Homo sapiens: one gene and its partner. The protein of the gene in region 2 purifies or fractionates together with the protein of the main gene of each other region. This does not show direct contact. Each region holds a gene or a part of one and is shown on either strand. Other genes may lie near its edges.

The links.
Region 1: the proteins of ANGEL1 (region 2) and EIF4EBP2 purify together in Homo sapiens (affinity purification with mass spectrometry, with the first as the bait; one large-scale study listed by BioGRID). This does not show direct contact.

Annotation. Positions count from the first base shown.
Region 1 is NC_000010.11:70,402,711-70,406,944, reverse strand, and holds the start of EIF4EBP2 (eukaryotic translation initiation factor 4E-binding protein 2), read right to left. Parts: upstream 2,801-4,234; 5' UTR 2,544-2,800; coding exon 2,399-2,543; intron 1-2,398.
Region 2 is NC_000014.9:76,792,080-76,796,105, forward strand, and holds part of ANGEL1 (protein angel homolog 1), read right to left. Parts: intron 1-4,026.

The DNA of each region.
Region 1 (4,234 bases), on a different chromosome or scaffold from region 2:
GCCTAGGCTACAGAGCGAAACTCCGTCTCCAAAAATAAATAAATAAATAAACAAATAAATCCAAAGATTATGATGGGCTCTCCCAATAAATACAAGCTCAACAGTAAAGAAGAGCCAAGATCACAAGTATTTAAATCCAAAACAAGAAACTGTGTGTAGAAACAATGTCGGGGGAAGTTAAGTGATATTTGAGAAAACAGTGATTGAGTGTTGTTAGGAGGAGGGGTAATGAATTAGTATTTCTGGCAGACTCTTTGCAAGCACTTTAAGAACTAATCCAGGCTATGAGACAGGCTTCTATCTTTGAAGCAACGCTTAAAGACTATGCCCTTATTTTTAAAAGTATGGTAGCTTGACTATTTGACATAAGCCAAAAACGTGTCTAGGTGGCTCTTCCCTCAGGGGATTAATATATAGCTGAAAGTTTAGTTCCCTTTCCAAATACATTATAGCTGAGTGCAGTTGTCACTATGACGTGTTCTGAACTTCTGGAAGCACAGGCATTTACTGAGCAATACCACAAAGAATTCTGGAAGAAGTTATAAATCCCTTTCCATCACCTCGGAAAACAGCATCTATTTCTTAAAAGCTATCAGTTCAAGTTCAAGACAACTCTTATATGGAGCAGATTCTGGTCTGCCAAAATTTTTCAGGATTAAAAAGCAAGATCTTGGCCGGGTGCAGTGGCTCACGCCTGTAATCCCAGCACTTTGGGAGGCTGACGGGGCGAATAACTTGAGCCCAGGACGAGCCTGGGCAACATGGAGAAACCCAGACTCTACCAAAATACAAAAAAATTAGCCAGGCGTGGTGGCACGTGCCTGTGGTCCAGCTACTCAGGAGGCTGAGGTGGGAGGATCGCTTGAGCCCAGGAAGTAGAGAGTGCAGTGAGCCGAGGTCGTGCCACTGTACTCCAGCCTGGGCGACAGAGTGAGACCCTGTACCATGCTCAAACACGAGTTGGTCTTGAACTGATCATATCGGGGGGAGATTTCTTCCATGAGTTAAGCCACCTAAGAACTCCACTATTCTGCAAAGTTAACATTTCCTTAAACCCAGCTCTCCATATATATTACTGAACTTCTGCCTGGGTCATTTAAAAAGCCTTTCAAGGCAGCCCGCCCAGCCCCCAGAGCGGCCTGGCTGAATTTCTCTGTAAAGCTCCCTCCTAGATTTTATCCCTTGGTGTTGGCAAGAAGGTCTCCTTACTCCACAGGCCTTGCTATTGTGCAACTGATTTAAGGATGGTCCAGGCCTAACTGCATCGGATTGGTTGTAGTACAGCTCCTGAGCCCTGCCCACAGGAACAAGGCTAGCAATCCTCTAGACCGCAGGAGCTGCGAAGTCCCCACCCTCTAGCAAGAGGCCACCCCAGCACCAAAAGAAGACAAAGTTCTGAAGTTAAAAAGGAGGCCCCGTTCCCTTCAATAAGGCTCCTCAAAATCGCTTTCCAGGCTCCTCCCTCTGGAGGACAGCCCAGTTAGGGCACAGACAACCTTTGAGCTCTCTTCCCGTGACCAAGCTTCACCTCTACCCCAGTATTACTTATTTGTAAACAGTTCCTGGTCATGCTTTGAAAAGCAATGCCAGGGAACCACCCTCTCTCTGGATTGCCTCTCTCTAGCCCCTTCCACAGGATCAAGCAACCACCCCACCCAACTGGGGTGTCCTTGACAAAGGTCCTTCAATCCATTTCCAAAGGCGTCGCTGCCGAAAGACACCCTACCTTAAGGCTGTCAGCACCCTACCACCCCCACCTACTTTCCCTTGGCTATTACTTGAGCTTTATTTTATCACGCTCTCCTCCCGGCCTGGGGACTCCCCTCACCCGTGGGGCCTCGTCCAGCAAAGTAAACAATGCTGTCAAAGCGGGATAACGCTGGGCGAGGCTTCCAGACTCCGCATTCCAGCCTCCTCCCGGTGTTCTAAAAGCAGCAAAAACAAGCCATCGCAGGATGCCAGGGCCGAATTCCTCTCCCAAAGTTCTTTTTTAAAAAGCCCCGGAGCCAGCTCCAAAATCAAGCATTAATTTGCACAATCTACGACAGGCAATGCAGACTGTAATGCAAGGCCAAGTGGAGCCAAATCCGCCCGGGAAGGAGGCAGAGAGGAGAGAGAGAACTGGGTCGAATGCGTAAGCCTGCCACGAAGCGGAAACAAGAGCTCTTTTTCGCGACAGGACAGCCACATTCCCGAGTGGGGCGCGCGCCGACTCGAGCTGCGGGCAAGAGCGAACACGAAGTAAAGGGTCCCGAACGCTCGGGCGGGCCCAAGGGCAGCGTCCCCGGGGCTTCGGTGGAGCTGGGGGCGGGGGCGAAGCGGCCGGGCACCGAGGCGCCGAGGAGTTAGAGGACCGCGGCGGGACACCGGGCGCGGCGGACGGCTGGCCGGCGCTCACCTCCCGGTGTGGTGGAGAAGAGCGTCCCCCCGGGCGTGGTGCAATAGTCATGAGGTAGCTGCGCGGCGTCGCTGATGGCCACGGTGCGGGTGGGGATGGCGCGGCTCTGGCTGGGCTGGTGGCCGCTGCCGGCTGACGAGGACATGGCTGTGGGCGCGGGCTCTCGGCTTTGTCCGGCGGGCAGGCGGCGGCGGCGGGGCCGGGGCTGCTTCGGCTCCTCAGGCGGACGGAAAAGCGCGCTCTGCGCGCTCCTCGCTCGCTTCCTCCCGTTCCCTCGTCCCGCTCCGCTCCCGCCGCCGCCCTCTCAGCCGCCGCCGCCGCCGCCGCTCGATCCTCCGGCCTCAGCCAGCAGCCTCAGGAGCAACAGCAGCGGCAGCAGCGGCGACGACGACGACCGGAAGCGGGCGAAGGCGGGAGCCAGAGGGAGTTGGGGAAGCTGGTCGGCCGGAGGTGACGTCGCCGCGGGGCGGGGCGAGGCAGTGAGGGGCGTGGCTGAAGTTGTTGAAGGGGGCGGGGACGAGGGGCAGGGCTGAGGAAGAGAGTGGCTTAACCCCAGCGAGCGGGAGAAGAGCCAGAGGGAGCGCGAGCTAAGTGTTTGTGAGCCTGGTGAAGGCGGACAAGGAAAACTTTCTTCTTATTGTTTGTCATTGTCGGTTAACACCACTTTACTTGAGCAGACTTGAGTTTCTCATGCATTCCTATGCATTAAAAATGTAATTTTACTTTTAATTGTTCATTATTAATTCAGGCACTACATGCACGATGTACTGTATTTTAAAAATCAAACAGAGCAGAAAGGTTTATGGTGCCACTTTCTCCCAGTTTCCGAACTCCCCTCAACCGCTGTACCAGTTAATTGTGTATCCTTCCAAAGACCATCACTATATACACACATAAAGCAAGATCTAAACATTAGGAAAAGGAAGAAACCAAGAGCCACTCATGGCAACAAGAATGAGTATTATTGTATTAGAGTTAAAATGAGGCACAGGAGAGGGCTTAGACCATGAGGTACCTGAAAAATCTAGATCTGGAACTCTATTCTTTCCTCGAGGGGTTCTCAAACTTTGGGTCTCAGTACCTCTACATTCTTGAAAATTATTGAGGATTTCCAAGAGCTTTTGTTTGTGTGGATTATATGTATTGATAATTATTGTATTAGAAATTAAAACTGAGCCGCTGCTGATCACTAGTGGGATTGTACCTGTGAATAGCCACTGCATTCCGGCCTGGGCAACAGAGTGAGGCCCTGTCTCTAAAAAACAACAACAACAACAACAACAAAAAACAAATTAAAACTGAGAATGTTTTAAATGTTTATTAATTCATAAAATAATAACCTATTACATGTTGACATTATATTTTTTAATTATCTAAAACAAATAGTGAGAACAGTGGCATTATTTTATATTTTTGCAAACGCTTTAATATCTGGCTTAATAGAAAACAGCTGTATTCTCATATCTGTTTCTGTGTTCAAGCTGTTGTAATGTGTTGATTCAACTATATGAAGAAAACCCAGCCTCACACAGGTATGTAGTTAGAAAAGAAGGTTGTCTCAGATCCCCGAGGGGCTCTCCAGATCACACTTTGAGAACCGCTGCACTAGGGCAGCACTACTTCTGCCCACAACATGCCCAAGGTGGGACTGGGAAGACACTCATGGGTAAGGCCAACATAGCTACCATCATTCCCATTTTGCAAATGAGAGAAATAAGGGTAAGAGAGGTTGAGGGGAAAACAGCTATTGCTTCACTGCTCAGAGGGTCAAACAGGTGCTTGGCAAGAACATAGACAAAAGAACTTACAACAGCCCAGGGCAGGCCAGGGCATTAC
Region 2 (4,026 bases):
CCAACCATTTAGAAATAAAAAATAACTATAAGTGAATGCTATAAATAACTGGATACCAACAAATTGGATAACTTATATAAAATTGAAAAATTCCTAGAAAGACACAAACTATGCACAATAACTCAAGAAAAAACTGAAAATCTGAATAGGCCTATAATAAATAAAGAGATTGAATCTGTAATTTTAAAACATCCCACAAAGAAAACACCAGGCTCAATGGCTTCACTGGTGAATTCCAGCAAACATTTCAAGAGGAATTCATACAAATCCTTCACAAACACTTCCAAAAAAAAGAGGAGACACTTCTCAACTCATTCTATGAGGCATTACTCTGACATCAAAACTAGATAAAATGTCACAACAAAAACTATAGACCAATATCCCTTATGAATACAGATGCAAAATTCCTCAATAAAATATCAGCAAACCAAATCCAGCAAAATATAAAATTATATACTATGACCAAATAAGATTTATCCTAGGAATGTAAGCATGGTTTAACATCTGAAAAATCATATAATGTGATATGTCGCAATAGAATACTTAAGTTTAAAAAAAAGCCACATGATTATCTAAACAGACAGAAGAAAAACATTTGACACACTCCAACACCCTTTCATGAGTTAAAAACACTCAAAAAACTAGGAATAGAAGAAAACTTTCTCAATCTGATAAAGAGAATCTATGAAAAACTCACAGCTAATATCATACTTAATGGTGAAAGACTGAACGCTTTACCCCTAAGATCAGGAACAAGGAAAGGGTGTCTGTTCTCACCTCTTCTATTTGACATTGTACCAAAAGTTTTAGTCAGAGTAATTATGAAAGAAAAAGAAATAAAAGGTATCCAGATTGGAGTAGAAGGAATACTATTTCTATTTGTAAGATGACATGATCTTATATAGAGAAAATCCTAAGAAATCCACTAAGAAACTATTAGAACTAATAAATGAATTCAGCAAGATTGCAGGTACACGATCAATACACAAAAATACTTCTATACACTAGCAATGAACAATCCAAATATGAAATAAAGAAAATTCCATCTACAATAGCATCAAAAATGAAATAATTAGGAAAAATTTAATAAAAAGTGTAGGCACACTAAAAATTACAAAACTTGGAAAGAAACTAAAGATCTAAATAAGGAAAACCAGCCCATGTTCATTGGCCATAAGACAATATTGTTAAAATGGCAATACTTCCCTAGGCAACAGACTGAGTCCTTGTCACAGAAAGGAAAGAAGGAAAGGAAAGGGGAGACGGGAAAGAGGAGAGGAGAAAGAGGAGAGGGGAAAGAGGAGAGGGGAGAGGAGGGGAGAGGGGATAAAAGGAAAGAGGAGAGGGGAGGAGGAGGAGGAGGGGAGGAGAAGGAAGAAGAGGGAGGAAAGGGGAGAGGAGGAGAAAAAGGAGGAGGAAAAAAGGAAAGGAAAGATTTGTAGATGCCTATCAAAATCCCAACTGGTTGGTTTTTTTGGTTTTTTTTTTTTTGTCTTTTTTTGCAGACACGGATATGATGATCCTAAATTTCATACGGGAATGCAAGAGACCCAGAAGAGACAAAAATCATCTTAAAAACAACAAAGTCAGAGGACTTACTCGTCCTTATTTCAAAAGTACAGTAATCTATCTTATCCATGGGGGATACATACCGAGTCCCCCAGCGGATGCCTGAAACAATGGATACTACCAAATCCTAAATATACTGTTTTTTTCCTAAACATACCTATGATAAAGCTGACTTTATAAATTATGTACAGTAAAAGATTAACAATAATAATAAAATAGAAAAATTATAACAATATATTGTAATAAGGTATGTGAATGTGGTCGCTCTCTCCCTCAAAGTATCTTAAGGTTTTTGAACCTCAGTTGACCAGGGGTAACTGAAACCAAAGAAGGCAAAATCACTGAGAAGGCGGACTACTATATACAAAACTATAGTAACCAAGACAGTGTGGTTCTGGCATAAGGACAGATACAGACAGGAAGGGAACAGAACTGAGAGTCCAGAAATCCATACATCTATGGTCAATTGATTTTTGACAAGGGGAGAAGTAAATGGAAAGTGACTCATGGGTGTAAGGTTTCGTTTGTGGGTGATGAAAATGTTCTAAAATTAGATCATGGTGATGGTCACACAACCCGGAATATACTAAAAGCCAATTAATTATACACTTAAAATGGGTGGATTTTATGACATGTGAATTTCATCTCAATAAAGCTGTTCAAAAAAAAGGATATGGGAATGTTACGAACAACTTCACGCCAATATATCTGATAATTTAGATGAAATGAAATACCCCTTTAGGCCAGGCGCAGTGGCTCACGCCTGTAATCCCAGCACTTTGGAAGGCTGGGGCGGACGCATCATGAGGTCAGGAGATCGAGACCATCCTGGCTAATACAGTGAAACCCCGTCTCTACTAAAAATACAAAAAATCAGCCAGGCGTGGTGGTGGGTGCCTGTAATCCCAGCTACTCGGGAGGCTGAGGCAGAAGAATCGCTTGAACATGGGAGGCAGAGGTTGCAGTGAGCCGAGATCATGCCACTGCACTCCAGCGTGGGCAACGGAGCGAGACTCCATCTCAAAAAAAAAAAAAAAAGAAAGGAATGCCCTTTTATATGCCTTATATTCTTCCTGTTAGATTTATTTCTATATTTTTTCTTTTTGTTGCTCTTACACAGTGTATTTTTTTCATTATATCTTTTAATAAACATGTATTTCTATATAGGAACACTACTAAGTTCTGCACATTAATTTTGTACCTATCTACCTTCCAGAATTATCTTAATGCTTAATGCTGCTTAGTTTATTCTCTTGGATTACCAGTTATAAAATAATATCATCAGCAAGTAATAATTTACCCCCTCCTTTCCATTTTTATCCTTCTATTTTGCTATATTTCTATTTTCTACTTCTAATTCTGTTGGCTGGTATCTCCAAACACAGTTAAATTATGATAGTCTTGTCCTTGTCTTGTTCCTAACTTTAACAGGAATGCTATTAGAGTTTTTTTCTTTAATCAAGATGCTGTTTGGAGTTGAAATAAATACATTTCAATGGTGTAGGAAATTATCCATTTTTTTCTTAAGAGGGTTCATTTTAAAAGAATCAAGAATAGATGTTGAATGTTAACAGATGTCTCTTCAACATCTATACAGAGGATGGCACAAGTTTCATGTATTTTAGATTTCACATATATATAAAATTATATTAATAGATATCCCAATATTGAACTATCCCTATACTTCTACTAAACTTCAGTTGGTCTATGGTATATTGGTCTTTCAATATGCTGCTAGATTTTGTTTCCTGATCTTCTATGTAAAATTTTTTGCATCAATATTCACAGGTGGAGAACATTAGAGTCTGCAGTTCTCTCTTTCTGTGTGTTTACTGTCAGGTGTCAGTGTCAATATTATACTTGTTTCATAAAAATAACCTGGCCCCTTTCTCTCTCTGTGCTTTGTAACAATTTAAACAATAATGGAAATATATGTTTTTTAAAGGTTTGAGGACATTCCCTATCAATCTGAGCCTGGTGTTTCTGAGGGACTGTATCTCTGAGAACTTTTCCTATTACTTTTCACCCCATGGTCATTAGTCTATTTAGACAATCTCCATGGGAATCAGTTTTAGTAAATTACATTTATATGCCATCCAAATTTTCCATTTCTTTTGCACTTAGTTGAGCAAAAACAACAAAAAACCCTTGTGATTCTTGATTCCGCTGCATCTGGATGCTTGTTCCTGCTCTTTTCCCACTTACATAGGTTAGCTAATGAGCTTCTTTAATCAACAGCTATTTTTCATCCAAGCAACCAACTCTTAAGAATTTATGAGTTCTTCCATTTTTCTGTTTTTAAAATTATTTCCATTTGAATCTTCTTTCCTTTTGCTTTCTTTCAGTTTCTTTCTTTTTTCTAATTTCTTGAATTGGGTGCTTAACTCACTTTCATCCCTTCATATCTATTAATATAACTCTATGATTCTAAATATTTTATGTAATTCTATGAATTTT